Linked DNA regions of Homo sapiens. The protein of the gene in region 1 interacts with the protein of each later gene in a biochemical or structural test. Each region holds a gene or a part of one and is shown on either strand. Other genes may lie near its edges.

The links.
Region 2: the proteins of CIAPIN1 (region 1) and GLRX3 form a complex in vitro, tested with the Homo sapiens proteins (one study listed by IntAct).

What each region holds. Positions count from the first base shown.
Region 1 is NC_000016.10:57,437,252-57,441,074, reverse strand, and holds part of CIAPIN1 (anamorsin), read left to right. Parts: intron 1-91; 5' UTR 92-146; coding exon 147-303; intron 304-1,740; coding exon 1,741-1,893; intron 1,894-3,823. UniProt on the Homo sapiens protein: Component of the cytosolic iron-sulfur (Fe-S) protein assembly (CIA) machinery required for the maturation of extramitochondrial Fe-S proteins.
Region 2 is NC_000010.11:130,142,575-130,146,397, reverse strand, and holds part of GLRX3 (glutaredoxin-3), read right to left. Parts: intron 1,188-3,823; coding exon 1,079-1,187; intron 1-1,078. UniProt on the Homo sapiens protein: Together with BOLA2, acts as a cytosolic iron-sulfur (Fe-S) cluster assembly factor that facilitates [2Fe-2S] cluster insertion into a subset of cytosolic proteins.

The DNA.
Region 1 (3,823 bases):
CATTCCCTAGTGGGCGGTTACAAGTTAGGTTGGGATTCTAATCATATTTTATGATATCTCACAGATTAAATTGCACTTTGTCTCTGCCCAGTCTTGATTCCCTTTTGGCCAGCAGTTTTTAGGTCTGTCAGTACTGCACTGCAAGAATGGCAGATTTTGGGATCTCTGCTGGCCAGTTTGTGGCAGTGGTCTGGGATAAGTCATCCCCAGTGGAGGCTCTGAAAGGTCTGGTGGATAAGCTTCAAGCGTTAACCGGCAATGAGGGCCGCGTGTCTGTGGAAAACATCAAGCAGCTGTTGCAATGTAAGTACCCACCCACGTTGTCTTTATGAGGCTGGAGGGGTTTCCATGGGAGTGTTGCATTTCTGTGGTTCCTTGATATCTGAGTTTTCATTTAGGGTGGCATGTGATAGTGGTGGCTGGTCACCCTGTTGTTTTTCAGTTGAGATATATCGGAGGAACCACCCCCAATAATTCAACGTAGGTTCTTTTCTATTTTCCCTAAGTGTCGGCTGGTCTGAGAAATAAAGGGAAAGAGTACAAAAGAGAGAAATTTTAAAGCTGGGTGTCCGGGGGAGACATCACATGTCGGCGGGTTCCGTGATGCCCCTCAAGCCGCAAAACCAGCAAGTTTTTATTAGTGATTTTCAAAGGGGAGGGAGTGTACGAATAGGGTGTGGGTCACAGAGATCACATGCTTCACAAGGCAATAAAATAAGGCAAACGGGGGCAGAGCGAGATCACAGGACTGGGGCGAAATTAAAATTGCTAATAAAGTTTCGGGCACGCATTGTCATAGATAACATCTTATCAGGAGACAGGGTTTGAAAGCAGACAGCTGGTCTGACTAAAATTTACTGGGTGGGAATTTCCTCGTCCTAACAGGCCTGGGAGTGCTACGGGAGACCAGGGCTTATTTCATCCCTTATCTGCAACCATATAAGACAGACATCCCAGAGTGGCCATTTTAGAGACCTCCCCCTAGGAACGCATTCTCTTTCTCAGGGCTGTTCCTTGCTGAGAAAAAGAATTCAGTGATATTTCTCCTATTCACTTTTGTAAGAAGAGAAATATGGCTCTGTTCCGCCTGGCTCTCAGGCAGTCAGACCTGATGGTTATCTCCCTTGTTCCCTGAACATCGCTGTTATCCTGTTCTTTTTTCAAGGTGCGCAGATGTCGTATTGTTTAAATGCACATGCTTTATGAACAATTTGTGCAGTTAACGCAATCATCACAGGGTTCTGAGGCAACATACATCCTCAGCTTATGAAGATGACGGGATTAAGAGATTAAAGTAAAGACAGGCATAGGAAATCACAAGAGTATTGACTGAGGAAGTGATAAATGTCCATGAAATCTTCACAATTTATATTCAGAGATTGCAGTAAAGACAGGCGTAAGAAATTATAAAAGTATTAATTTGGGGAACTAATAAATGTTCATGAAATCTTCACAATTTGTGTACTTTTGCCATGGCTTCAGCCGGTCCCTCCGTTTGGGGTCCCTCACTTCCTGCAGCAGAGCTTAGGAGTGTAGTTGATGATTTCCATAAGTATGTTCTTTCTTGGTAGCTATTCCATGTTTTTTTAAAACACTTACTATTCATCCAGCTTCTTGGATGGATATCGAGTGGTGTCCATTCTCTCAGGGTGAGGTCTGTAGCTTTTGTTGGGGGTTGGAAGGGACCAGGAGATTATCCCAGGCTCAGGAGATTGCTAATTAGAGTCCTCTTCTTTTCAGCTGCCCACAAAGAATCCAGCTTTGACATTATTTTGTCAGGTTTAGTCCCAGGAAGCACCACTCTGCACAGTGCTGAGATTTTGGCTGAAATCGCCCGGATCCTTCGGCCTGGTGGATGTCTTTTTCTGAAGGAGCCAGTAGAGACAGCTGTAGGTAAGGAGATCTTCACTTGGAAAACATGTTTGACAGGGTTGAGTCTTAGAGTATGTGTGCTGCATCTCCGTGAGCAGGAGGTATCATTGGGAGATCAGTATTCCTGTAGCAAAACCTTTTCCTTGGGGATAAATTATTGTTAAAATCTGAAGCAACATATCTGGAGAAATTGTAATCTTTGGCTGACTCATTATGTAATAAAATAGAAGGAAACTGCCATCTAAAAATGGGTCCTTTTGCAGGTGAATAAACTTTGATATGTTCATAATATGGAAAGTGATGCAGCAATAAAAATGAACTAGCTAACTATATGTACATCAGCTTGGATGGATATCAAGGGAAGTAGCTGAGTGAAAAAAGCCAATCTCAAAAGGCTCTGTACTGTACAAATCCATTCATATGCTCGAAATAACAAAATTGTGGCGGTGGAGATCAGAGTTTGCCAGAGGTTAGAAGTGGGAGGAAAGGGTTGGTGGAGCTATAAAGGGGTAGTATGAGGGTTCCTGTGGTGATAGAACAATTCTGTGTTCTGAATGTCGTGGTGGTTACACAAATCTACACATATAATAAAATTACATAGAACTATATAGCCCCCTTCTGCCAAACGAGTACATATAAAAGAAATGAAATCTGAAAAAGTTATGTGGACCATCAATATCAATTTCCCGGTCTTCATATCATGCTATAATTGGGTAAGATGTTAACTGTGGGGAGGGACGAAGTGAAGACCTCCTTAATATACAGAACTTTTTTTTGTTTTTTCCAACTTCCTGTGAATCTATAGTTATTTCAAAATTAAAAGTTTAAAAATAGTGGCCGAACCCTGGGAATGATGTGGTAATTATTGATTCATGTGAAACTAATGACAGTGTTCATGAAGTAAAAACTTTTTTGATCGGTGGTATAGCTGTCAGAGTGATTCAAGTCTGGATTTTTAATATTTTTCACTAGACTTTCAGTCAAAACATAACCATTTCATCAAATAGAATAATAGAAATGAAAGTATTTTGAAATGTATAAAGGTGTTCATTGTTTATTTGGAAATAGAACTTTGTGTTATGTGTAGTATAAATCAGCATTCTTTGCTGGGAATTTAAACCTTACATGACTAAATGTAGTGTCTTAGAACTATACAGAGATAAAAAAGGAACTATTCAGAAGGAATACTTGTGTTTCTGTGCACTTTGCAGTTCATAAGCCTCTTTTCATAGTCATTATCTCACAACCTCTGGAAGGGGTTTCAAGAAGCAGAGAGTGATAAAAAAACAATAATAATGGAATTATAACATTTAAGAGCTTAGGTAAAAACACTTCGAACAACAAAAAGGATTTGTCAAATTAAAATAGTATCGCTATGGCCAGGCACAGTGGCTCACACCTGTAATCCCGGCAGTTTGAGAGGCTGGGGCAGGCAGGTTGCTTGAGTCCAGGAGTTCGAGACCAGCCTGGGCAACATGGCGAAACCCCGTCTCTACAAAAAATACAAAAATTAGCCCAGTGTGGTAGTGCACACCTATAACCCCAGCTACTTGGTGGGGGCTGAGGCAGGAAGATTGCTTGAACCTGGGAGGTCGAGGCTGCAATGAGCTGAGATCATGCCACCGCACTCCAGCCTGGGTGACAAAGTGAGACCCTGTCTCAAAAATAATAATAATAATAATAATAATAAAATAATATCACTAAAATATATATACAATTGTCCTCATCTTACAATGGAGTTACATCCTGATAAATACTATTAAGATGAAAATGCATGTAATTCATCTAACCTACTAAACACAATTGCTTAGGTTAGCCTAGCCTACCTTAAACACGCTTAGGACACTTGCGTTAGCCTACAGTTGGGCAGAATCATCTAACACAAAGCCTGTTTATAATAAAGTGCTTAGTATCTCATGTAATTTACTGAAAACTGAAGTATACAGTTTCT
Region 2 (3,823 bases), on another chromosome or scaffold:
CATTCTGAACAGGTTAGAAAGACTTTCACCTTCTCCCGGAGGTCTGCCTTCATCTAAACCAAGATAGCAACTTCCTGTTCCCTGGTCCCTAGCAGCATTTACATACCCCTTCCTGAATTATTTTCTACAGCACACCTAGCTTTTCAATGACATAATTTGTGTTACTATTTTAAATGCCTTAAAACCACAGTTACCCACAGGGAACTAATTTGTCTGCCTGTGCTCTCCAAAACTCCAGCCCACAGCCACCTTGACATTTGGTAGTCATGCCTCACACCCGAGGATGATCAAGGAAAAGTGTACATTTGGCCAGGCGTGGTGGCTCACGCCTAATCACAGTACTTTGGGAGGCCAAGGTGAGCAGATCACGAGGTCAAGAGACCAAGACTATCCTGGCTAAGATGGTGAAACCCCATCTCTACTAAAAATACAAAAAATTAGCTGGGTGTGGTGGCATGTGCCTGTAGTCCCAGCTACTCGGGAGGCTTAGGCAGGAAAATCGCTTAAACCGGGGAGGCAGAGGTTGCAGTGAGCTGGAGCTGCACTCCAGCCTGGGCGACAGAACAAGACTCTGTCTCAAAAAAAAAAAAAATGCAAAATTATTTTAAGATTTTTAAGAATGATGTGCAAAAATAACAGATCCCACACCAATTATACATATTTGGAATTCCATACCACTCCATCTTTATATTAGTTAATAAAATCTAATTTTTTATTTTATTTATTTATTTATTTAGAGACAGCGTCTCGCTCTGTCACCCAGGCTGGAGTGCAGTGGCACAATCTCGGCTCACTGCAATCTCTGCCTCCCGGGTTCAAAAGATTCTCCTGCCTCAGCCTCCCACATAGCTGGGATTATAGGCACCCGCCACCACGCCCAGCTAATTTTTGTATTTTAGTAGAGACAGGGTTTCACTATGTTGGCTGGGCTGGTCTCAAACTACTGAACTCAGGTGATCTGCCCGCCTCAGCCTCCCAAAGTGCTGGGATTACAGGTGTGAGCTACCGCACCCAGCCCTAATCTAACCCATAAATCAGAATTAAATTCACAAAAGACATGACATTGAAATATAAATACCTTCACAAATGAAACTTGAGGGAGTTCTTTAGCTAACTCTGCCATAACTTCGTTCATCTGTGCACACTGTGGAGCCCATGGTGCCCAGAAATGGACCACAAGGAGGGACCTGTAAATCAATTAAATGCATTTATTTAAAATTATACCAATTTTGGAAATACACAAATACTGATATAAATTACCAAAAAGAAAAAAAAGAAAGCTTTAAAAGAACCGTCTGAAGTTTTTCATATTGCTAGAATTTTGTTGTATACAACACTGGAACATAAAAGCACTCTGCAAGGTCTTGAGACTCTTTCAGATAAATTTTCAATTCAATGATATTTCAAGTGAAGCCCATTTGAAGTAGATCTGAATATTCATCCACCTCAATTAAAAGTCATGTAAATCACTGTTGGTGGGAGTGTAAATTAGTTCAACCATTGTGGAAGACAGTGTGGCAATTCCTCAAGGATCTAGAACCAGAAATACCATTTGACCCAGCAATCCCATTACTGGGTATATACCCAAAAGATTATAAATCATTCTACTATAAAGACACATGCACACATTATGTTATTGCAGCACTATTTACAATATCAAAGACTTGGAACCAACCCAAATGCCTGTCAATGACAGACTGGATAAAGGAAATGTGGCACATATATACCATGGAATACTATGCAGTCATAAAAAGGAATGAGTTCATGTCCTTTGCAGGGACATGGATGAAGCTGGAAGCCACCATTCTCAGTAAACTAACACAGGAACAGAAAAACAAACATTGCATGTTCTCATTCATAAGTGGGAGGTGAACAATGAAACCACACGGACACAGGGAGGGGAACATCACATACCAGGGCCTGTCAGGGGGTGGGGGGCAAGGGGAGAGAAAGCATTAGGACAAATACCTAATGCATGCAGGGCTTAAAACCTAGATGATGGGTTGATAGGTGCAGCAAACCACCATGGCACATGCATACCTATGTAAGAAACCTGCACATTCTGCATATGTATCCCAGAACTTAAAGTAAACGAAAAAAAAAAAAAAAAAGCCAGGCAAATCAACCATATTTTCAGACCCCTGGGCAAAGTGGAAACTGAATTTCTGTATTAATGGCACAATGTTTGTGAAAAATGGTTGTAGACACATTACTAATAATATCATTATTTACTTTTTAAATGTGGTATAGTGATGGAGAGACATAACCGTGACCATAGAAACAGCAGTAAGTGTTGAAAATGAAGGCATGCCAGTGCAAAACGAGGAAAAGAATAGAACTGCTTTTCACAAAGACTTTTTTTTATACTTTTTAATATTATGCTACAAAAGATTTTTCTAGACCCAGAGCAGTGGCTCACACCTGTAATCCCAGCACTTTGGGAGGCCGAGGCAGGCAGATCACTTGAGGTCGGCAGTTCGAGACCAGCCTGGCTAATGTGGTGAAACCCCAACTCTACTAAAAGCACAAAAAATTAGCCGGGTGTGTTGGTGCATGCCTGTAATCCCAGCTACTCAGGAGGCTGAGGCAGAAGAATTGTTTGAACCCAGAAGGCAGAGGTTACAGTGAGCTGAGATCACACCACTGCACTGCAGCCTGGATGGCAGAGCAAGACTCTGCCTCAAAAAAAAAAAAAAGATTTTTCTAGGCCAGGCAAGGTGGCTCATGCCTGTACTCAGCATTCTGGCAGACTAAGGTGGAAGGATTACTTGAGCCCAGGGGGTCGAGGCTGTAGTGAGCCATGATCATACCACTACACTCCAGTGTGGGCAACAGAGCAAGACCCATTTAAAAAAAAAAAATTCTAAACATTTATAGTATGAACACACAGAATATATTAATAACTCAGTATCTATTTTAGTTAGTTTTCACACAAAATTATCTTGGCAAAGATATCTATGGTCATATCCAACTAAAAAATCCTTCAGTTTTATGGAATTCTGTTCAAATATAATACCACCTCCCAAAAAAATCTGAAAAATCACGAACAGAAATATGTTCCATGGCAAAAAGAACCAAGGACAACTAACCTATGGGTAAGGAAAGGAATAACAAACTGTAAAAACTGATCAAATAATACCAGCGAGAAGAGAATAAGCCTACAATAAAGTGTCAGGAAAGCAGAAGCAAAGAGCAGCATGAGGATTTCGAAGGTAGAAGGGGCAGGATTTGGTGACAGATAAGGCAGTCTACAGCTGGCTCCAAGTTCTGGCTTAGAGACTGATGGCTAGTGGTGGCACTATGCCTCAAATCATAGTGCAGAAGCTGCCAACCTGAGGAAAGGAAGTTTAATGGGTTGTTAGTATGATGTCTAGAGCTCAGGGAAGAAGTCTGCACCTGATATACAGATTTGGGAATCAAGAAAGGAACAGTGCCAGCACCACACCGCAAAGGGTTACAGAGGGACACAGAGGAGACCCGAGGTCAGCGCCTCAGGGGGCTTATCAACATTAAGTTAGGACAGATGGAGGAGAAGGAACTTATGTAGTAAAGCAGAGAAGGGGTCCTAGGCGGTACTGGAAGATTAAGGGGTCCTAGGCGGTACTGGAAGATTGAAGGGTCACATAGAAGTCAAGAGAAGAGTGTCAAGAGGGAGTGACAATCATCCAATGCAACAGGAAAGGGCAACTAACAGAGAGAGTACCTTCAATGGAATAGCAGAAGCACAGGTCAGACTGCAGTCCACTGAGGACTGAAGTGAAGATGAGGAAGCAGAGATGTACTCTAAGAGATCTGTACAGGCAGAGAAAAAGACAAAATCAAG